Homo sapiens: one gene and its partners. The protein of the gene in region 3 purifies or fractionates together with the protein of the main gene of each other region. This does not show direct contact. Each region holds a gene or a part of one and is shown on either strand. Other genes may lie near its edges. The genes, in order: NLRP3, KRR1, DHX33, POTEI, E2F3 and ZCRB1.

Region 1 (3,853 bases), on a different chromosome or scaffold from region 3:
CCTGGCAGCCTGATTGTGAGGGCATCTCCAAGCTCTCCTATATCCCCAACACGGCTGTGGGCTAAGAAAGGTCACCCTTCCCTGACCGCAGTTCCCTGCAATCCATTTTACACACGTCTTCTATTGTCAAGTCTAGATGTCTGGTTCTTCAAGAGTGAGAACGACCAGTCTATTTCGTGCCTAATCTAGTGGTTGGGAATCCTGGCTGACTTTAGAATCACCCAGGAAGCTTTAAAAATATGGACTTCAGGACTGCACGCCCAGAGGTTCTTTTTCAGTCCCTCTGAGGTGAGGCCCAGGAACCATCACATACTAAAAGCTCCCAGGTGATTCCAACATGCATCTGTGTTGAGAATCACAAATCCAAACAGTCACTAGATAGCATATCTTAAGAAGGCATTCTATAGGAGAAATTCAGGTTAGGTAAAACAAGAGTTAGTCACTAGGGGAAATATATAAGACAGATAACTTCAGGTGGGCAGGAATCTACAAGTAACATAAATGATTTTTTTTTTTTTTTTGAGACAGGGCCTCACTCTATTGCCCAGGCTGGAGTGCAATGACACAATCATGGCTCCCTGCAGCCTCAACCTCCTGGGCTCAAGTGATCCTCCCACCTCAGCCTCCAGAACAGCTGGGACTATTGACACGTGCCACCACACCTAACTAATGTTTGCATTTTTTGTAGAGACAGGTTCTCACTATGTTGCCCAGGCTGGTCTCAAACTCCTGGGCTCAAGCAATCCTCCCATCTTGGCCTCCTGAAGTGCTGGGATTACAGGCATAAGCCACTGCGCCCAGCCCATAAAAGACCTCTGACAGCTGTCTACTTGGTAACCATATCACAAAATAAAATCCAAAAAATCTAAGCCAAAACCAAAATCTTATTCTTTTTTTTTAAGAGACAGAGTCTTGCTTTGTTTCCAAAGCTGGAGGGCAGTGGCATGGTCATAGCTCACTCCAGCCTGGAACTCCTGAGCTCAAGTGATGCACCCACTTCAGCCACCTGAGTAACTGGGACTCAGGTAGGAGCCATGACAGTAAATTAGCCAAAGTCTATTACCTAAAACCTAACCCCACCCCAGGAAACAAACAAACAAACTTCTAACCCTAGTTATAACTTTTCTGCCTCAAAATCCAGATATGGAAGCAAAGACGGTGTAGTGGTTAAGAGCCAGGCTTTGATCAGAGACATGCCCTGCTTTTTACCCCAGCTCTGGTTATGGCTAGAAATAAACCATGGGCCAGTTAGGATCTCTTCCAGGCTCACCTCATTCACTTGCAGGAGGGATAATACCAGAAGCTGTTTCATGGGTTTCTTGAATGTGCCATAAAATCCATAAAAACTGCTTAGCAAAGTACTTCTACAGTTGTGATTATGACACTTTCATTTGGGTATGTGAGTATATAAGTACTGACACAATGATAATTGCTTTATTTACTTAGAGATGAGGTCTCCCTATGTTGCTCAGGCTGGTTTTGAGCTCCTGGGCTCAAGCGATCCTCCTGCCTTAGCCTCCTGAGTAGCTGGGACTACAGGTGAGAGCCATTGCAGCAACTGGTTTCTGACCTCCCCCGGCTGCACACTGCTGTCTGTTTCCCCAGTGTCATTACACCCACACTGCTGCCCTGCCTTAACATGTGTCTCCCTATCCACTGACTCATTTGTACTCCTCCTTCCCATCACCACCAGCTCTACATCATCATCCTGCAATACCCTGCCCTTCTCTGAGCCCTACCTTTGCCTAGAACACAAGACAAAAGAAAGAACCTTATCCCCAATGTGTACATGGGGATTAAGAGAATTTCTTTTACATTCCAATTCCCAAAGTGGTGGTGAAAGGAAAGGCTTCTGCCCCAAACTCCACGGTTCTTCAAGGAGAGAGGCTGCCCTCTGGGCCATAGGAAGCAGAGGCCCAAGCCTGCTGACCACACAGCAGATACTGGACAAAACATGTGGTCTGAGAAGCTGGATGGAGAATTGGAGGCAGGTCTAGGCACTGCTGAGATTCAGATAAAGAGGGACTAATCATGGCAGGTGCCCAGGGGGTAGGTACAGTCTGCATCAGCTTTTTAAAGGAGTTAGAGAAAGCAAACAGTTTGCCTCCACCTTCTCATAGCACTACCGTGAGAGGGGAAAAGAGAAAAAACCAAGACAATACAAGAAAAAAAAATTTTTTTTTGAAACAGGGTCTTGCTCTTTAGCCCAGGCTGGAGTGCCGTGGTGCAATCTCAGCTCACTGCAACCTCCACTCCCCATGTTCAAGCAATTCTCCTACCTCAGCCTCCTGAGTAGCTGGGATTACAGGTGCCCACCACCACACCCGGCTAATTTTTTTTGTATTTTTAGTAGAGATGGGGTTTTGCCATGTTGGCCAGGCTGGTGTTGAACTCCTGACCTCAGGTGATCCACCCACCTCAGCCTCACAAAGTGCTGGAATTACAGGCATGAGCCACCATGCCCGGCCATGATTTAAAAAAAAAAAAATCATACTAACTTCTGTGCATCAAAGGACACAGTTAACCAAATGAAAAGACAACCCACAGAATAGGAGAAAATATTTGTAAATCATATATCTGATATGGGGTTAATATCTAGAATACATAAAGAACTCCTACAAGGCAACAACAAAAGCCAAACCTGGTCTGAAAATGAGAAAAGAACTTGAACAGAACTTTCTCTGAAGAAGCTCTATAAATGGCCAACAAGCAGTGAAAATGTGCTCAGCATCACTTATCATTAGGGAAACGGAAATCAAAACTACAGTGAGATACCACCTCACACTCATTAGAATGGCTACTATAAAAAAGAAAAAATAAATAAAAATAACGTGTTCTTAGGATATGGAGAAATTGGAACCCTTGTGTGCTGTTGGTGGGAAATGGTGCAGATGGTATCTAAAACAGTAGAGCAGTTCTTCAAAATATTTAACAGAATTACCGTATGATTCAGAAATTTCACTTCTGAGTATATACCCCAGAGAATTCAAAGCAGGGTCTTGAAGAGATATTTGTGCACCAACACTCATAACAGCATTAACAATAACAAAAAGGTAGAAGTAATCCAGGTGTTCATCAACAGATAACTAAACAAAATTTGGTATATGGTACCATGGAGTATTTATACAGTCTTTTTTAAAGGAAGGGAATTCCGACACATGCTACAACATAGTTGAACCCGGAGGACATTATGCTGAGTGAAATAAACTACTCATAAAGGAAAAAATGCTGTATGTTTCCACTTATATGAGGTACCCAGAGTAGTAAGATTCACAGAGATGGCAAATAGAATGGTGGTTACCAGGGCTGGGAGAATGAGGCAATGAGGAGTTATCATTCAATGGGTGAGGAGTTTCAGTTTTGCAAGATGAAAACAGTTCTGGAGACTGGTTGCACAATGTGAGTGTACCTAACACTACTGAACTGTACATTTAAAAATTATTACGGCCGGGCGCGGTGGCTCACACCTGTAATTCCAGCACTTTGCGAGGCCGAGGCGGGTGGATCACCTGAGGTCGGGAGTTTGAGACCAACCTGACCAACATGGAGAAACCCCATCTCTACTAAAAATACAAAATTAGCCGGGCGTGGAGGTGCAATGCCTGTAATCCCAGCTACTTGGGAGGCTGAGGCAGGAAAATCGCTTGAACCCGGGAGGTGGAGGTTGCAGTGAGCCAAGATCTCACCATTGCACTCCAGCCTGGGCAACAAGAGCAACTCCGTCTCAAAAAAAAATATATATATATATATATATAAAGATGGAAAATTGTACACTATGTGCACTTGGCCACAATTTTTTTTAAAAGTCTTCCTTCCACTCACCCCACTTCGGCTCATCTCTTTTTGCTTTCTC
Region 2 (3,853 bases), on a different chromosome or scaffold from region 3:
GGCCAAATCAGGACTGTTTTACAAAATGTGCTGGGCATATTAGTGGTACATAAGATGATTTTAGCTAGTTCACAGATGTACATTTGTTTCAATAGTTGAATATTGAACATTTAAAAATATATATAAAAAAAAATAACTAGAACATCACACTCTTGATTTCATCGACATAACTGCCAAGAAAAGTGAGGGTAGCATATTTACAGTAATTCACCACAAAGCCCACTCACAGGTATGAAGACCAGGGATGCTCACCAGTACCCAGAGGACCAGATGATTGATGGGTTCTACCACGAGCATCTAATAGCGACTGCTGCAGAACTGGTGTGGAAAAGGTTTCTATTTTATAAAAGAAAGTATCCAGAAGGCTAAAGGCAGTTGTGGAATTTATTTCTTCCCAGTGCTCTGATTGTCAAAATTTGAATAAAGCTCAGTGAAAGGAGGACAGTAATTAATGACTTGATAGCCAAACATCGTAATGATGATTTAGTGATATACTAGACTGGATGAAAGAGAGGTCACTGTCTTTTCACTATGGATTCATCATAAACAGTATCATTCTTCTCAGGAAGAAACTTATTTTTAGAACTATATTTTAATAAATTTCTCACATTCTAATATTTAATTTTTATTTTTTAAATTTTATTACCTGCTAGGTATGATGTGTAAAATGATTTTCCATTTATAGTAATGGTATAGTTTCCTTTTTATAAAAGGTTTATAAAGTTTATGTAAAAAGTCAACTTAAAAATACCAAGTTAATTCAGTCAGTTCAAAAAGTTTTGAATAATTAAACTTGGAAAGTCACTGCAATAAAGCCAAAGCAAGTTAATGGTCATAATTATAAGACTTAGCTTTTTAAAATAAAACTCTCAACTGTGTCTACCCTTTTAATTTTTTTTCTTTCTTCCCCCTAACTTTACAGTTAACCGACAGCGAGACCAAGTCAAACGTACGTACATCAATCTTAAATTGTTTCATTAAGAGCTATGTGAATTCTGTCAGTGCATTATGAGGAACAATGTCTAAGAGGATATTCTATGTTTGTTTCACAGGTTACTACTCTGTTGTATATCCAGGCTGGCCCATATATCCACGTAACAGATACACTTCTCTCTTTCTCATTGTTAATTCAGTAATTCTAATACTGTCTGTTATAATTACCATTTTGGTACAGCACAAGTACCCTAATTTAGTTCTTTTGGACTAATACAATTCAGGAAAGAAAAAACCCAAAAACCAACCTCATTCACATATGGCTTTTTTTTTAACCAATAACAATTAGGTGTACTTCTATTTTAAAACATTTCAGAAAAAAATATATGTTATAGCAATACTCTTACTCAAAAGAAGAAATTTCCTAACTCTATCAGATAAACTCATCTTTAGTATAAATAAGCATTATTTGCAGGTTGCCACAGGTGGACTTTTAGTAAGTAACCTAACCCATGTTTCAGCTTCTAAATCTGCAAAATGAGCAAGGTACAGTAGCACATTTTTAGGTGATTCTTAGTAACTCCAGTAGCCTTCATTAGTTAAAAACATTATTATTTTTTGCATGCTGCTTCGACTCTAAATATCTGGTTTTCCCTGTCTTTTTGGTTTACTACTTCCCCAGATTCAGAACAGAGGAGTAACTAGGGGATCTGATTTTAGAGGCCTTAATTTTCTGTTCATGGACTGTTAAAAGTAAAACCAAACTTTCAAAAGGGATAAACCTAAATATTTACTTGTTATCATTAGAGAGGGAACATCAAATGCTGGGACATCATTACTAACCAATAGCATCAGACACTGGATTTAATGGATAATCACAATGGTCGTAATGTATACAAAGACTTATATACCACTTTCTCGTATAAATTTTTCAAAAAATACAATAATAATATAATTTATAAAGAACACTCTTCTATGAACAACCACCACCACCAAAAAAAAAAAAAGCCCTCAGAAAATTTCTCACAAATAAGGCAACTAATGCCTGATATCTCAAAATCCTTTACAAAAGGAGATAGTTCTAGTCAAGGAGTTTTGGGTATGTTACTTTTTTTTCTTCTTTTTCTTTTCATCTGCCTCCATCTTAAGTGCAATTTCTTCAGCTGTAAGAGCTCCCAGTTTCTTATTCTTTGCTTTCTTAACCTTTTCCTTGATGCTGGCCACATCAATTTTAGTTTCAGTAGAAGCTAGACAAATTAAAAGCACAACACATGTAATACTTTAGATTTTACCAAGTAAAACAAAGAATATATGTTTAACAAAGAATATATGTTTAAGGCAGTTAACTTCAGAGTATTCTTATAATTGAATAATTGAAAGGTGATCACAGTATAAAATATAAAAACACTTGCCTAAAGCAGTTAGAAATTTCTTCAGATTAAGATAAAACAAATCATAAAATACTTTATATATTAGTACAAGTATACATAAAAATGGCATAAATGGCATAATTGAACCAATTACTGGATTCAACTATATTAAGACTATTTCCTTAAATCCTACTTCAGACTAAATTATTTTACCTACATTCTTTTCCATATTTTGGAACTTCTGAGTCATTATTTTCCATCTTGCACATTAAAATAATTTAAAATTACATGTATCCCTTCTCAATAAGTTTAATCAGCTAACCCTAAGCTAGAGGTCAAAATCTACTTCCTCTAATATCAAAACGAAAATTTAAAGTTTTCCAAATATTAATTCAATATTAATTGAATATTCAATGAATTAATTCATTTAATGTTAGATTAATTCATTGAATATTAATTCAATGAATGACTAATTAATAGTATTTTAACAAGATTTTGGTATATTTAACAACATTTTGGTAATAAAGACAATAATTTGAGAGTGTGTGGAAGTCCCCCTAATAGAAGCCAACTATCTAATCAATGCCAAAAGTGTGAACAAAATAGAGAAAGGAAGCAGTGAAAAAGAATGCAACTTTTTCTTACCATTCAAAGTACAGGATCACAGCATAAAAGAATCATAAGATAAAACATCAAACTACCCAGCAACCTGAGAAGCACAGAGTGTTAAAGCCTCCACCGTGTGGAGAAACTAAATTAGGGTAACTAGCTATTGAGTATATTGAGTACCTTCAAAGCACTCAACTGACAGGTTTTACAGACTGGAAATTATAATACTTATGACATTTCTACCTTTTATATAACCAATAATCTACCATAGAATGTAGTATTTTTAAAGCTATTAACAAGCAATATATTAAAATAATAATGTATTATATCTGTTTCTGACCCAGTCTATGTACAATATTGCTGGTGAGCCCTCTCCCTTCAGTGTGTCACTGTTCACTTTGGAGGGTTACTTTAGGAAGAGGATAAGTGTTACCACAGGGGAAAAAAATGCAGAAGAGGATGCATCAGAAGAAATGGCATGACAATGTTTTCTCTTAGTGTCTTTTAAATACTAGGTTAGTGCGAAAGTGATTTCTGCCATTTAAAAACCACAATCACTTTCGCACTAATAGCTCCTGAATAAGACCTGTCAGCATCCTTTAGTCTAAGGTGATGAGAAATCCATGTTACCGATATAGAAGCCAAACTCTAAGCCAAGATCACATAAAGAGAAGAAAAAGTACAACTTCTGATAATTCCTCTTTGAGAGGCATGACAGCAGAGCTCAGGGATCTTCTTGCATTTCTACAGAAGATGCACTGGCTGCCCTGGGTTTGTATCTTTCACAACAAAGAGTCTTTTCCAAGCACAGACCAGAGGTCAGGAGAGGACTGTCAATCCAGTTTGCACTGAAATAGGCATTAGCTGCCTCTAAATTATAAATTATCTCAGCCATCCCTTGTCCTTAGGATTAGTAATTAATGAAATGCTAAGAGAACTGA
Region 3 (4,447 bases):
TACCTTAAGTTACTCTGGAAAGCACACTGGGAAAAAGGACTGGGATGTCTTTACTCAAAGTCCATAATTTGAGAGTTAACATTTATTATCCCTTGTAGTTTTGGGTTGCCTTTCTAAATATTTCAGGGTAGGAAGTGAAAATTTGTCAGTTTATTCTTAAACACAAATCTGCTGCTGGTTCAACGTGCACATTTTCAGTAATGCCTGGTCACCAAACTGTCAGCAACTAGAGGAAAATTATCTCCGACCTGGAGCAAAGGGGAGGTTTTTTGTTTTTAGACTAGCTCTCTCACGAATCACGGGAAGGGAGATATTTAACAGGGCGAGTTTCATGGAAACGAGCTTCAGAAGATACCCTTCACATGAGCTGAAGCTTACGGTGTATTCTCTGGAAATCACATTTCCTGTAAGAGCAAACAGCTACTTGGCATTCTCCGTGGTAAATTAGCAAATCATCTAAGAACTTTTAGGAGGGTAAGGAAGAACTAGTTATAATCCTACTTTTTTCTGCTGCAGTTCTGAATCTTCACTGAAGTGTCTGTGATGGGGTTGCACAGCCATGTAGAGAACTTGAGAGTCTGGCTGGAATGGTTGGGGGAAAGGAAAGATAAAAGACAATTTTAATTTCATTGAACTCCCTCCTTTCTCTGCTTGTATTACTGGAGGCGACCACATCCGTTGGAGGAGTCATTTTCTGAGTTAAATTCATGTATATCAGAATTGGTTTTCCTTTCTGTAACACAAGATGATCACAAAATTATGATTTGGGGACATCTGAATGACTAAGATGACTCAATTTCTTAATCTGTAAATTAGAGATAATCTAATAACCAGTATATACCACATAACTTATAAGTTGTTTAGAGGATTAGACAATGCACGTTTGCGCTTCTCATTGATTTTACAGAATTAAGTACTTTCCTTGAAGAGTGACTGTTATTTGGACAGAGAAGGGGAAAACGCGGGTTTACTGAAAAGAAGTAATGCTACTAGAACAAAACAATGGGCGGGGCGCGGTGGCTCACGCCTATAATCCCAGCACTTTGGGAGGCCGAGGCAGGCGGATCACCTGAGGTCGGGAGTTCAAGACCAGCCTGACCAACATGGAGAAACCCTGTCTCTACTAAAAATACAAAATTAGACGGGCCCCGGTGGCGCACGCCTGTAACCCCAGCTACTTGGGAGGCTGAGGCAGGAGAATCGCTTGAACCCAGGAGGCGGAGGTTGCAGTGTGAGCCGAGATCGCGCCATTGCACTCCAGCCTGGGCAACAAGAGCGAAACTCCATCTCAAAAAAAAAAAATAAAACAATGAGAAAAACCTCGTTAACCAAGACTACAGTCCCACGGAACCTTACATCCTGTGTTTCCCGGTTGTAGCTCCGGGCCTTTTCCTGGTTGTACCTCAGGCCCTGCTTTTCCCACCCCCAGGAAGTGAAAGCCTTCCCAAGCCCCCAAGGCATGCTGGGAGATGCAGTCCCTTTTTCTAAAGACTGGGGCGGCCGTGAGGTCATCGGTGGTCGCCGGGAGCCGCCAGCACGTGGCGGCGAGGAAGGGGCGGTGTGCTCCTGTTGTCTGCACCTGAGAGGGGGCAGGAGCTCTCGGCGCTTGCGCCTCCCGCCGCGGTGCCCTCCCGACATGCCGGAGGAGGCGGGCTTCCCGCCGGCCAAGAGATTCCGGCCAGGCTCTGGACCTCCGAGCCGCGCTGGGTCCTTCCCTCCCGGGAGGCAAGTGGTGATGCTGCTGACTGCGGGCAGCGGCGGCAGAGGAGGAGGAGGAGGCCGGAGGCAGCAGCCGCCCCTGGCCCAGCCCTCGGCCAGTCCCTACCCTGAAGCTGTGGAGCTGCAGCGCCGGAGTCTGCCCATCTTCCAAGCGCGGGGGCAACTGTTGGCCCAGCTCCGAAACCTGGACAACGCGGTCCTCATCGGTGAGTGGCCGCGCCGGCGGGCTCTTCCTTGCACTTCGTCCGTGGCTTAGCTAGAGCAGTTTTTCTTACATGCCTCTCAATCCCTTTCGTTCGTGGCTTCAACAAACCTGAATACCTTTTCTGGGCCAGACCTGGAGAGGGGCCTCGAAGAAGAGTCCGGCAGCCCTGCCCTGGAGGCGCTGGACAGCCCGGTGAGAGTGACCAACGTGTGTAGGCAAAGACTCACCTTCCGCGTAAAAGGGTAGAGAAACGTACCGGGGGCTTGCGGATCTTAGAAGAGTGGATCTGACCCGGTTTGTGAGGAGGCGGCTGGGGAGGTCGTGTGGGAGGGAGGGCATTCTAGGCAGGGGGGAAAGCCCGTTTGAGAGATGGGAACCTGAACACATTCCGGTCGAAAGGGAAGGTGTAGTTTCTGGTGCATGAAAAGAGGCAGAGTTGTGGGGCAGGGACTGATTTCATGGGGCTTATGATCCCCAACGTGTTAGAGGAGATACTGAAGGACGGAAAGGATGAGCAGCCAAAGAGAGGAAGGAGACCCATGAGTGCTGCTAGTCAAAGGAATAGAGAGTGAGCAGATGCAGCAGTCAAGTCCGGTTATACTGGACTTGGATGTGATGCCCACTGGATTTGGATGTGAGCTATTTGTAAGAGTTAAAGAAAAAGGAAAGAAACACGAAACGCGGCTGGCAGTTAAAGACAGCTTTTCTTTAGTTAAAACCTGAGAGGCGCTCCTGGCCGATTTCGGTCAGGAGCCCTTTCTCTTACAGACTAAGAGTATATATTGGTGTTAGGGTGAGGGGGCTTATCACAAGCTTGGAATGTTTATATGTGTGGAGAAGTTTTTGGCAGGGTTGGACTCTTTGGGAGCAGGGGATGTTATCTTGGGGCAGACATTTTTCCGGCCCGAGGGGGTTTATCTCCCGGCTGGCATATTCCCGGCTGGCATATTCCCGGCCAGAGTGGGGTTATCCCTTAACATGTCTCTGGTCGGGGAGGAGTTTGGAATGTTTCTGGCTGGAGATGTTATTTGTGGTTTATGGTCGTGCTGACCTTAGCCATTAGGCTGATACCTTTTGGATTTAGGCGGTTTTTTATTAAGGTGAACTTTTGAATGAGGGGCTTGTCCAAGATGGTGATGTTCCTGCTTTGTCAATCCAGACCCTATAGTTATAAAAAGGAGGAGGGACGGCATGTTCTTTCTGGCTACTTCCTGCAACGAGGGGATGGAGAGTTTCCTGGTCTCGGGTTGACTAGGAGCAATGCCGTCTGTAGATGTTTTTGGGTAGTTGTTTGTGAAATTGCCATGATCCTGTCAGTTAAAAATCTTTGAAAAAGATTAATTAGGCAGGGTAAGAACATTAGTTCCAGGCATATTATTAGGAGAGGGCCCAGGAATGGGATGACCCATGCTATGATTTTGTTTTCAAACCAAGAGTCCATTTGGTGGTTTTGGTACTCCCTTAGCTTTTTAGCCTTTTCTTTACGTTTTTTAGCAGCGCTTTTTACTAGGCCCGATTGGTTGATATAGAAAGAGGCGTGAGCCACCGCACCTGGCCCCCTCAAAACAATTATTTAACCTTTTAACGTAGGTAAAAATGTGCATTCTTATCCCTCCTGATAATCTTTTTACCGAAAGTGTACTTTACTTTCCTTACACACCTTGCACATAAAGTGTCTCTTCAATAGTTTTAAATACATGTTACACTGTTAACTTTTAGCAACCTTTACCTTTGTTGAAAACCTTGGTAAGTTCGGGATTTTAATTATGTGCTAGGTGTACAGCCTAGGACTTAGACAGAAGTGCAGTTAAGGTCTGGCTTATTTCAGCATTTAGCTCCATGTGTCCTAGGTTTTACCTAGCTGCAAAGCAGGCAAGTTCTACAGCTAAGAGTTATGGTGACATTTTATAAAGCATTCAGGAGGCCTAATCACTTTTAAATTGTAAAACATTTCTTGCATACATTTCCTCTCATAAAATTTTTCATGACTTTCACAGACTATCTCTGACACTATTGATCGTGGATCCATCCCATCGAGAGCTATTTCAACAAAGCTGTGTGGGTAACAGCTGATTTGTCATTGAGCTGAGGGCTGAAAGCAGGGGGAAGAGGCTTCTGTTTTGAGGAAAAAGGAGGGAAGCTGAGAGAAACTTTATGGATGCTGCTCGATTTAGGATGGGGTTATGTGTGGATGAATCCACCCATCCTCATAAGTTGAAAATATCCTAAGTTGGAAATGCATTTAATATGCCCAGCCTACTTTCAGTGTGCTCGGAACATGTACATTAGCCTATGGTTGGGTGATATTATCTAACATGAAACCTATTTTATAATAAAGTCTTGAATATTTCATGCAATTTATTGAATACCATACTGAAAGTGACAGTTGTGTGGGTACTCAAAAGTACAGTTTCTACTGTACGATTTTGACTTTTGCTCCATCCTGAAGTCAAACAGTTCTAAGACAGGGACCATCTGTATTCAGAGGTTGAGGGGAAGAACTCAGTAGGGAGGGAGGCAGAA
Region 4 (3,853 bases), on a different chromosome or scaffold from region 3:
GTGATACCCAATAACTAACCAAATAGAGACGTCAAGTAGGCAGGCTGATATAGAAATCTGGAATTAAGGAGAGAGATCTGAGCTGGAGACATACATTTGGAAATCACTAGCATATACACAATAGAAAAAGTCACGAGGGGCCGGGTGCAGTGGCTCACACCTGTAATCCCAACACTTTGTGAGGCCAAGGCAGACAGATCACCTGAGATCAGGAGTTTGAGACCAGGCTGGCCAACATGGGGAAATGCTGTCTCTACTAAAAATACAAAAATTAGCCAGGCATGGTGGCACACACCTGTAATGCCAGCTACTCAGGAGGCTGAGGCAGGAGAATCACTTAAACCCAAGAGGCAGAAGTTGTAGTGAGCTGAGATCACACCACTGAACTCCAGCCTGGGGGACAGAGTCAAACTCCGTCTCAAAAAAAGAAAAAGAAAAAGTCAGGAGAAAGAAGATTGAGGACTGAGCCCTGGGAAACAACAATGTCCAAAAGGAGAAAGATGAGGAGGAGCAAGCAAAACAGACCATGATGAATGGACTAGAAATGCAGGAGGAAAAGCTTGAGGGAGTGAGGTCCTGAAAGCCAAGTGAAGACGCCGTTAGGGAGGAGACGCCCTCCACTGGCTCAAATATTGCTGACAGATTAAATAAAATGAGGTGTAAGAAAAAATGCATAATTTACAGAAAAAAAATTGTGATAATCTTGAGGAAAAACAATGTTGGAGGACTGCTGAAATTGAAGACGCCGGTGTGAGATTAAGAGTGAATGAAAAGAAAATTTGAGTTCGTGAGTGTGGACAGTTCTTTTAAGGACATCATGCTTAGGAGTCATGACTGAGAATGTTGTAATTTTCTTCCACAGTCATGGAAAAGTAATAGACAAATAGTTTCAAGTTTTATATAACAGGTGTAGTTTTCAAATTTTATATAACAATAATATATTTTAAAGGTTATAAAAATTATACACATGTGGCATTAAAAATGCCAGACTGAGGTGTTAAATTCTTAAAACTATAGAACTAAAAGTCGCCTTGAACATTTCTAGATTACACATAAGCTGATTATCATTTTATTCATGCTTATGCATAAAGACCAAGAAATACTAAAAGTTTCAAGGAGAGTATTTCTTGCTTGATAAAATCAGCCAATTCTAGGACAACTGATACTCATCAAATATACAAAGTAATTGATCACAGCAAAATACTGGGTTCTATTAACAGGAATAAAGTGGGAGAAATGCAGACAATAATCTTATTTTATAAATGAAATTTTTAAAATTATATGAAGTCACTGTGGAAAAATATGGTGAGGTGAATACTGAAATATATCCTTTTCTCAAAGGAAGGATAATTTCACACACGCAGGGCACTTTTACAAATAAGAGTCACTTCACTTGCAGCACCTTCCTTTTAGCACAAGGGTCAGCAAACTAGCACCTTGGGCCAAATCCAGCCCACTGCCTGTTTTTGTAAGTCAAGTATTTTGGAACACAGCCATGCTTATTCACTTTACAGTCCACAGTGTCAATTAGCTGGGTGTGATGTTGCACACCTATGGTCCCAACTAGTAGAGAGGCTGAGGTGGGAGGATCACTAGAGCTCAGAAAGTCAAGACTGCAGTGAGCCATGATCACACAACTGCACTCCAGCCTGGGAAACAGAGTGAGACCCTGTCTCAAAAATAAATTAATTTATATAGTCCACAAAGCCTAAAATATTTACTAACTGGCTCTTTGCAGAAAAAGCTGGCCAACTCCTGGTTTAGCAGATGAAAGATCCTTTGATACATTTTAATAAAAGTTTTACCCAATATACTGAAACGTTTATATTAAATACAGATCCCCATGTACAATCCCTTGGCAATATTCAGATTGAGGGTCCAATATTTCAGCACTCAGGCACTGACATAAAAATTTAATAACTAGCAATCTTGTTGCTAACAAGGTACAGCATCAATATAGCATGTAGCTTCCATTTGCAACACAGGAAATATTACAAGAATTTTAACAAGAACTCTTAAGATGTCATCACTGATGCTTTAAATACACTTTAATTGTGAAATAATCAGTATACTCTAGATCTAACCTCACTTGTAAAAAATGGTTGCATACTACATTAATTTCTGGGTATGAAAATTGAGCTATTTCCTATTGGTAATGATTTACTTTTGATAATGATAATTTCCTATTGATAAGGATCCATCTTTTTGATATAATAATGCTGTAATAAATGTCCTTATACATAAGTATATATGTAACATCTACACAAATATCCTTTACATATATTATATATCCTTATTGTTATACATGTGTTTGTGAATATGCTACTAAATTAATGTTCAAAATGTATTTACCAGCAGTGTATGAAATGTCTTTTACAATGAAACCATTTCTTTTGCAGCAACACAGATGGAGCTGGAGGCCATTATCCTAAGCAAACTAATGCAGGAACAGAAGATCAAATGCCACATATTCTTACTCATTAGTGGGAACTAAATAATGAGAACTCATGGACACAAAGAGGAGAATAACAGGCACCAGGGTCTACTTGAAGGTGGAGCGTCACGGGAGGGAGACGACCAAAAAACTAACTTTTGGTGTTTTGCTTATTATGTGGCTGATGAAATAATCTGCAGTCCAAATCTCCATGATACACTTTACCTATATAATAACCCTGCACATGTACCCCTGAAACTAAAAGAAAAGTTCACTAAAAAGAAAAGAAAATGCCTTTTCCCTCACATTTGCCAATACTGGTTATTTTTCAAATAAATTAATGCCTGGAAAAATGGTAACTCATTGTTCGCTGATTTTCATTTTTCTGATTAACGGGCAAGGCTGAATATCCTAGTAAAACTATAAAATTTGTTCATCATGAATATTAGCCCAAACTAGGGTTAGTTTGACAGCACATAGTTATCTCCTGTTCAATGTTGCCATAGGCTTACCTGTGATACTCTTCACTTTCGTTGTCAGGAAATTGCTGATTTTCAGGTGTTCTGCTCTTCCTTTGAGGAATTAATCCATCATCACCATTGCCAGCAGTGACACCATTACTCAGGTTTTCTAGTAATCCCACATTATTACTTTCATGCTTCTTCATTTCTTCTTCAACCTTGAGTGGGATATTAAGGATAGTTATCACTTTATTGAATAAAAAGAACCTTTTTAATTGATTCTATCAATTGACTCAGTTTGTCATTATTTTAGTCATTAAAAATATTTCACACTTAAATTTGATCATATATATAGAAATATTACCATATAACTTTAAGATGTAATTATCATATCATTAATATATCACAGAAATTTTTGTAAAGTTTGCTTCATTTCTGTTTCAATGAATGAAACAGAATTTTCCAAAATTCAAAAAGGGCCCTCCTTCATTTTATGCTTTTATTCTCAATCACTCTTCAGAATCTTATGTATGTATTTACCCCATTTGACTCATGGGAACACGCAAATAAAAAGACAAAGATGCAAAATGTGTCTTCTGTCTTTACCACCTAGATTTTACATTAAACAGTCAGATTTAGAGGATGACACACTGTGCGGCTTCAGGAACAGAAAGGAAGTTTGCCCTTTTCTGCGCTAAGATATTCTTCTACCCCACTGCCTTTGAGCATTCTTTTTTCATTTGGTTGCTGGGATATCAAAAACATGATGGTGCTCACTGAAAATGGGAGCCAAAGTTTGCCACAACACAAGAAGCAGAGTGAAACTGCTGACGTGCAAGCATGGAATTCCAGAAAATGAGATGCTCCCCAAATTTCACATTGAATAGCCATACAATTTTCTAGCTGGAAGATACACAGAATAAGAAGCTATCTTCTTTAGCCACATTATCTATTGATA
Region 5 (3,853 bases), on a different chromosome or scaffold from region 3:
AGCCCCTCTATGGAAAGTTACCAGCTAACCCTGCACCGTCTACTACGATAGCCACTGGTTACTAGCTCATCCAAACTGACATGTGCTATAATTGTAAAATACACACTGAATTTCGAAGACTTAGTACAAAACAGGGTAAAATATCTCAACAATTTTAGTAGTGATCACATGTTAAATGAAATAAATAAAATACAACTGACCCTTGAACAACATGGGTTTGGACTGTCCGTTTCCACTGATTTTATTTTTTTAGAGACAGGGTCTTGCTCTGCCGCCCAGGCTGGAGTGCAGTGGTGTGATCTCAGCTCACTGCAACCTTGTCCTCCCAGGCTCAAGGAATCCTCCCATCTCAGCCTCCTGAGTAGATGGGACCACAGGTGCACACCATGATGTCTGGCTAATTTAAATTTTTTTTTTTTTGGGTAGAGATGGGGCCTCTGTATGTTGCCCAGGCTGGTGTTGAACTCTTGGGCTCAAGTGATCCTCCTGCCTCATCCTCCCAAAGTGCTGGGATTACAGCCGTGAGCCACTGCACCCGGCCATGAGTGTGTCCACCTATATGTGGGTTTTCTTCTTCCTCTGTCATCCCTGAGACAGTAAGACCAACCCCTCCTCTTTTCTTTCACCACACCTTCCTCAATGTGAAGATAACGAGGATGAATTTTATGATGATCCACTTCCAGTAATGAATAGTAAATCTATTTTCTCTTCCTTATGATTTTTTTTTCATCCAGCTGCTTTATATGCCCATATGCCTTCTACACTTTGAACCCTGGACCAAGTTCAGCTGCTAGGAAACGCAAATTCCAGAGCATACCTAAGATGCATTGGATCAGAAACTCTGGGAATGGGGCTGAGCAATCTAACAGGCCTTCCAGGTGATTCTGATACACCTTAAAGTTGGAGAAACCTGGCTTTAGATCATAAGGGAAAAGAGTAAGACACTCAGGCAAAGCCCAGCTCTGCCCAGCACGGCCTATTTCACACACCCTCACCTCTAGTCCTGCTTGGCTGATGAGGGAAATCTATCCTGTGGATTCCACTTTCATTCATTCCAAACTTTCTTTTATTGATAACATTTCCTCTCTAACTTCATTGTAAGAATACAGTATATAATACATATACCATATGAAATGTGTTAATGACTGTTTATGTTATTGGTAAGGCTTCTAGTCAACAGTAGGCTATTAGGGCTGGGTGCATGGATCACACCTGTAATCCCAGCTACTCAGGAGGATGACTTGAGGCCAAGAGTTCAAGACCAGCCTGATCAACGTAGCAAGACCCCCCATCACTAAAATAATAATGAAAACCCCAAACAACAGGCTATTAGTTAAGTTTAGGGGAGTCAAAAGATCTATCTAAATTTTTGACTGTGTCAGGGCACCTCTAACCCCAATGTTGTTAATGGGTCAGATGTAGCATTAAAATTATTTCATCTGTTTCTTTATATATATATTTTACGATGTGGCTTGCCTCAGTGGCACACCTTATCTTTCTACTGCAGTGCTAAGTTAAACATCATTCTAATGGCTCCGGAAGGACAATCTGCTTGCTGGACTTCATCTTCCCCTCCCAGCCATTCTGTCAAGTCCTTGTGTGGGCCTGCTGTGGTTGGTCCAGCAAACATTCACTCTTTATCAGGCAGAAGCTCCCTGTTTGTTCCTTGGGGAGCCATCCCTTTCCTGGTCTAAGCGCATCTGTGCACACAGGTGATCCAGGCCTGGCTAATCATTGTGGCCCATCCTGCCCTCCCCGCCCCCACCGCGAACAGGTTGAATGGCTTATGACCAAGGCTGGAGGAGCAAAGGCTAACCCCAGGAATGTTTCTGGAACTATCTGGCAAGAAGCAGGTATGTCTTTCCAGTAAGGTTGGTAAGTGAGGAGCCTAAAGCTGCCTGAGAATGGGGCCTTCCCAGGGGAAAGCAGAGTGGAGAGAAGGAGAGAGAGGGGTCTGAGACCACCACTCAAAACTCTGGCTCTGGTCATGCCCTGGGGGCAACTGTTGGTCTTTCCCAGACTTTCCAGTTACATTAGCCAATAAACTCTCCTTTTTGCTTAAAGCATTTTTTTTTTTTGAGACCCGGAGTCTCGCTCTGTCACCCAGGCTGGAGTGCAGTGGTGCAATTTCAACTTATTGCAAGCTCCGCCTCCCGGGTTCATGCCATTCTCCTGCCTCAGCCTCTCGAGTAGCTGGGACTACAGGCGTCCGCCACCACGCCCGGCTAATTTTTTGTAGTTTTAGTAGAGACGGGGTTTCACCATGTTAGCCAGGATCTTCTTGATCTCCTGACCTCGTGATCCGCCTTCCTCGGCCTCCTCAAGTGCTGGGATTACAGGCGTGAGCCACCGTGCCCAGCTGCTTCAAGTGTTTTGAGTCGGGAACCTAGAATTGTGCTGTTGCCAGTGACAGCTTATGGAACTGGCTGAGTCAAGATGGCTATGGTGTGACAGGGAGTTGGCAGGCCTTGTTAGAGAGTGGCAGAGTGTGTTGGTCACTTCTTGTGACCGCCAGGAAGATACTACAGATAGAGAGAAACTTCATCTGAGGCTGGCCCGCCTCAAAGAAAACAGCTTTGCTATGGAGGCCTTCTCTACAGAAAGCAATCTAAGGAGACATAGAGCTGTATTCTCTGCCCAAATTAAAGTCAACAAATGGGCTGGGCACAATGGCTCACGCCTGTAATCCCAGCACTTTGAGAGGCCGAGGTAGGCAGATCACCTGAGGTCAGGAGTTTGAGACCAGCCTGGTGAAACCCTAACTCTACTAAAAATACAAAAAGTAGCCCAGCATGGTAGCATGCACCTGTAGTTCCAGTTACTTGGGAGGCTGGGGCATGAGAATTGCTTGAACCTGGGAGGTGGAGGTTGGTGCCTCCGCAATCCAGCCTGGATGACAGAGAAAGACTCTTGTCTCAAAAAATGAAAATAAAGTGAACAGAAAGAAGGCAAACTTGGAAAAGAGTCTGGGACCCAGAACTCCTAGGGACCTAGGGCCGTGCCTCAGCAGTAAAGAACCACCCACTGGTCAGCAGGCTGGGGGCATACTAGTTTTATCTCTCCCTCCCAGGCTGCTGTTTCAGACTGCCATGAGGCAAAGGCCTATGGAACCATTAAACTGTAGGTTAGGGAAATTTCCATGTCTGCTGCTAAGTGACTGAGACTTAACTTCGAAAGACCGGGACTAGTCTTCATGTGTAACTCTCGTTACTAAGCACCAAACCATAAATTGACCAAATTTGAATGCTAGATGGACAAGCTACTAAAATTGCAAGGCACTTTTATTGCGAAAGAATCACTAAGTCTAGAAAGTGAAGGTCCATGATGTTGAACCTCTAAGGAAATCAATCACTAGGTCCAAAAGCCACGCCAGAAATAAGTGAGGTGTGAAGAAGGGGCAGCCCCAGAATTCCTCCCAGGAGGTGGAACTTGGGGTGGACTTATAGGCTCTACAAACTGCTGTCCCTGTGGAGGACATGACAAGAAGCAGGAGGTGAGCACTTTATGTCATTTCCCCTTTTCAGAAGGGAGGTTCCCGTTGGGTTATCCTGTTATTTTTCCTCCCCTGTTGAGTGAACAGGGAGGGCGGAACTGGATTTGTGGGGACCACATATTACCTGTTTGGTCTCAGATCTGAACATGGGTGCAATAATTAGAATCTCTTGAAAAAGGGCTAAGAATTTTGATATTTGATGGAGCAGCATTATTTTAATGCTTAACTTAGCAAATTCAAGCACACATGCCTGGTAAAACAAAAAACTATATGACAGGATTTAAATAGTGCGGGTGAGCTCTGTCTACACCACCCTGCCCTGGGCTGAGCACCAGGGTAGATGGAAATCTCTTCTCTTGG
Region 6 (3,853 bases), on a different chromosome or scaffold from region 3:
ATAGGAATTGACAGAATCAGTATGTATCCAAGCAACTGCTTGCTCACTCTTTCTATTCATCCATCCATCAGTCTGTTTATTTAGTTATCTTTTTTGTCGGGGGTATGGGGAGTGACAGTGGGGTAGAGGACCTCAAGCCATTTCCTTGCATCTTCCATGTGATTTTGTAGCCAGGACGGTATCTTTCAGTGATTCTCTCCCCAGTTCCCCATTACTACCTCTGGACTCTGTTTTTTAAGTATTTTATTTTATGTTTATTTTTATTTTTGAGACAGAGTCTCCCTCTGTTGCCCAGGCTGGAGTGCAGTGGAGTAATCTCGGCTCACTGCAACCTCCACCTCCTGGGTTCAAGCGAGTCTCCTGCCTCAGCCTTCCAAGTAGCTGGGATTACAGGCACCTGCCACCATGCCTGGCTAATTTTTTTTTTGTATTTTTAGTAGAAACTCAGTTTCACTATGTTGGTCAGTCTGCTTTTGAACTCCAGACCTCAAGTGATCCGTCCACCTCAGCATCCCAAAATGCTAGGATTACAGGCGTGAGCCACTGTGCCCGGCCTGTTTCTTAAGTATTTTTATGGTCATTTTACAAACTTACACCTGTGAGAACCAGACTAAAATTCTCTTGGTACCAATACAGACCTTATACAAAATTATTCTATGGCTGTCTCTCTCTCTTCATCACCAAAACTTTAAATGGATAATGACAGATCATGAAGAGAACCAAAGAAGAAAATGTGGGGATAGTTCAGTTACAAAACACTAGCAATACTAATAGGAAAAAATAAAAAACTTCAAAACACAATATCCCATAGAGGATAAAGTCACATGATAATGTTGCTATTGAACTGTGACTTAAAAACTGTTAAAGAAACAGGCAATATCCTATTAACAAAAATTTATGAGTTACGAAAATCTTGCAAGACAGTGACATAAGTAATCAGTCTAACACTTTTAAAACTAGTGATTTTCAAAGATTTAGGAACTAGAGAAAATACCACTTTGTATTACCCAACTCAGGTTATCTTTACACATTGCATTTCAATTGAATTTACTTTGATGAGTTTAGAGACCCTAACAACTAGGCCAGGCACCATGGCTAACACCTGTAACTCTAGCACTTTGGGAGGCTGAGGTGGGAGGACTGCTTGAGCCCAGGAGTTTGAGATTGGCCTGGGCAACATAGGAAGACCCTGCCTCTACAAAAAAATTTAAAAATTAACCAGGGTGTGATGGTGCATGCCTGTGGTCCCAGCTACTCAGACACTGTGGTGGGAGGATCAGTTGGGCCCGGGAGGTAGAGGCTGCAGTGAGTTGTGACTGCATCACTGCACTGGGTGACAGAGGAAAACCCTATCTCAAAAAAATAAATATTAAAAAATAAAGCATTTTCATAATCTGGTTTAGCCAGTCAGAAGTTTTGGTGAGCAAAAATAAAAGACTGATGTGAAAAGTATCTTAAACTATGGAAAGTTCCATTAAGTTTTAGGTTTACTTACCCCACATTCATAACACTTAGATTTATCAAAGTAGTTTCGCCTTCGGATGAACTCAGCTGCTCTTCCATTGTCAATAGCAATGCTTGCTTTTATCACTCTACCAAATAACTAAACAAGAGAAAAATGTAAATGTAGAATGTATTTCACTGAAACCTAAAATTAATTATTTAATCAATTTTCTCAAATCTTCAATTCCAGTTTATTTTGGATTTTTTAGCAATTGTCACTTAGGTGTGATAAATTCTATTCTGTAGTATTCTTATTCCTGAGATTCCACCAATGTTTTGAGAACCCAGTAGTTTGACCTCTTTTCTTTCTATAAGTTAGATATCTTAAGAATCTACTGATATCTGCTAGACCTGATGATCCACTATATCCCCACATTTTTGGCCTGGATGAGCATAAAGGCTTTGGGGCTAAAAACCTTGATGGAGATGAATAGCTTACCTGTTTGTTGTTTATTGCCCTGGTACAGTTTTGTGCAGAGTCTTTATCCAAAAATAAAATAAATGCAACCCCTTTACTCTTCCTGGTATCTTTATCTTTCATGATGGTAACCCTTAAAGCATAAACAAAGAGTTAAAAATGAGGCAGCAATAAATAAAACAGATACTAATACTTGAAAAATTCATTTTAAAAAGGGCTAAAAATTTATAAGATAAATTAATACATTTGAAAAATCAGCTATCTCTTCAAAGTCAAGGGATATCAAGAATGGAAATGGGAAAGGGTGATACTGATTTAACAGAAGTGAGCACAGCTATGATTAGGAGTTAATCAGAGATTGAAGGGTGAAGTAAAGAAATTACAGAGACAATGAAATCTTAAAGTGTAACCACAATCCCTCTTCCATGCTAACTCCCTCACCTTGCAAAACAAAACAAAATAAAGGTATACTTTACACAAAAAGTAAAATGATTTATTTATTTTTCTAAGTGTTAGAATCAAAGTATATTCTTAATATTCTTTTAAAGAATCTTCAGAAAAATAAGGAAAAAAACCCTCCAGAGCTGGTTGTGGTGGTGCGCACCTGTAGTTCCAGCTACTTGGGAGGCAGAGGCAGGAGGATGCTTGAGCATGGGAGTTTGAGAACAGCCTGGGCAACATAATGAGACCCCGATCTTTAGGGAAAAAGAATCTCCAGTTCTGTGGTTTTTAGCCATACCACCCACCAGGGTGTACCTGAGTGACAAGGAGAGTTATGAGAGCACAGAGCCTGCTCTTTCTCCTGCCCCATCCACATCCCTAGTCATGGAGGCCCTTGCCCACCGTATGTCATTTAACATAGTTTAAAAACAATGTTCAACAGGGCTCTTTGGAGAAATAGCGGATTCCAAGGCTACAGCAGGGCAGGTACAAGAGGAGCTTGGAACATCTTATGCCAGAAGGTAAGAGAGTGCAAGAGTGCGTGAGCGAGTGAGAGAGAGAGAGACGGAGGGAGGAATGAATGAATGAATGATGGGGCCAAGAATACAGCAGCCAGCTGGAAGGAGCTCCCACTGGCCAAATCAAGGACAATTTGAGCATCAAAATAATTCATTACAGTAATAAATTATAAGCCACAGAGAAGGTAGGAATTTATAATTCTTACTGATAAAAGACCAATAAATAAGTGGAGGAGATGGGAGGGAAGGCTCTTGCTTACAACAGAATGCCAAGGGATGACTGGTGAATGTAGAGGGAATGCTGGAGTTGGAAAAATCACCAATTTGACAGAAATATTGAATAAGGTAGTTGCTTTATGTTTTGGAATTTTTCGTAATGTTTGTGAAAGTTATCAGTCTTTTTTTTTAAAGTAGTATTTCAAAAGAAGTATTGGCTTTCTACATCATCCTCAATTAATGATCTCTCATCTGTTGCCTCTTTTCCAATTCCACTGCTTTTTTCTTGTCCATAGGGGCATTACTGTTTTAACAGTCTATTCTTATTGGTTCCTTTATGGTAATTTTTTCTCTTATAATTTTCTCATATCCTTAAGTAGTCTTCTACTTAAGGAATAAATAAAATCACACCATTCCTTTGTTCAAAAATCTTTGGTTCTGTAAGTTGCCTATTCTTTGTCCCACTGTCAGTATCCTTGATGATTTGGCTCCCATCTCCTTCATCTTTCACTGCTCCTTCCCACGCACACACTATGAAGTCTACCCAAAAGAAACCACTCAATGCTCCAGTAGCATGGCCTGTATTTCCCCAAATTTGTGCCTTTGTTCATACAGCTTCTATCTTCTTCCACCTCTGAATCACTGCTCATTAAAATTTTCCTCATTCTTTCGGGGTTCAGGTCAATGTGTCAGTTTCTAATAGCTTCAACTGGATATAATTTCTCCTCCGTTATGCTAGTCTCTGCTGAATTGTGTT

The links.
Region 1: the proteins of DHX33 (region 3) and NLRP3 purify together in Homo sapiens (affinity purification with western blotting, with the first as the bait; one study listed by BioGRID). This does not show direct contact.
Region 2: the proteins of DHX33 (region 3) and KRR1 purify together in Homo sapiens (co-immunoprecipitation; one large-scale study listed by IntAct). This does not show direct contact.
Region 4: the proteins of DHX33 (region 3) and POTEI purify together in Homo sapiens (affinity purification with mass spectrometry; one large-scale study listed by BioGRID and IntAct). This does not show direct contact.
Region 5: the proteins of DHX33 (region 3) and E2F3 purify together in Homo sapiens (pull-down; one large-scale study listed by IntAct). This does not show direct contact.
Region 6: the proteins of DHX33 (region 3) and ZCRB1 purify together in Homo sapiens (co-immunoprecipitation; one large-scale study listed by IntAct). This does not show direct contact.

What each region holds. Positions count from the first base shown.
Region 1 is NC_000001.11:247,419,047-247,422,899, reverse strand, and holds part of NLRP3 (NACHT, LRR and PYD domains-containing protein 3), read right to left. Parts: coding exon 3,823-3,853; intron 1-3,822. UniProt on the Homo sapiens protein: Sensor component of the NLRP3 inflammasome, which mediates inflammasome activation in response to defects in membrane integrity, leading to secretion of inflammatory cytokines IL1B and IL18 and pyroptosis.
Region 2 is NC_000012.12:75,497,772-75,501,624, forward strand, and holds part of KRR1 (KRR1 small subunit processome component homolog), read right to left. Parts: exon of another isoform or gene 2,181-3,853; coding exon 2,038-2,180; 3' UTR 1,208-2,037; coding exon of another isoform or gene 1,053-1,207; 3' UTR 950-1,052; coding exon of another isoform or gene 923-949; 3' UTR 1-922. Other genes in the region: GLIPR1 (glioma pathogenesis-related protein 1 precursor), read left to right, coding at 923-949, 1,053-1,207. UniProt on the Homo sapiens protein: Part of the small subunit (SSU) processome, first precursor of the small eukaryotic ribosomal subunit.
Region 3 is NC_000017.11:5,466,049-5,470,495, reverse strand, and holds the start of DHX33 (ATP-dependent RNA helicase DHX33), read left to right. Parts: upstream 1-1,513; 5' UTR 1,514-1,636; coding exon 1,637-1,925; intron 1,926-4,447. UniProt on the Homo sapiens protein: Implicated in nucleolar organization, ribosome biogenesis, protein synthesis and cytoplasmic dsRNA sensing. Stimulates RNA polymerase I transcription of the 47S precursor rRNA.
Region 4 is NC_000002.12:130,485,086-130,488,938, forward strand, and holds part of POTEI (POTE ankyrin domain family member I), read right to left. Parts: intron 3,114-3,853; coding exon 2,947-3,113; intron 1-2,946.
Region 5 is NC_000006.12:20,474,598-20,478,450, reverse strand, and holds part of E2F3 (transcription factor E2F3), read right to left. Parts: intron 1-3,853.
Region 6 is NC_000012.12:42,315,845-42,319,697, forward strand, and holds part of ZCRB1 (zinc finger CCHC-type and RNA-binding motif-containing protein 1), read right to left. Parts: intron 2,055-3,853; coding exon 1,943-2,054; intron 1,604-1,942; coding exon 1,496-1,603; intron 1-1,495.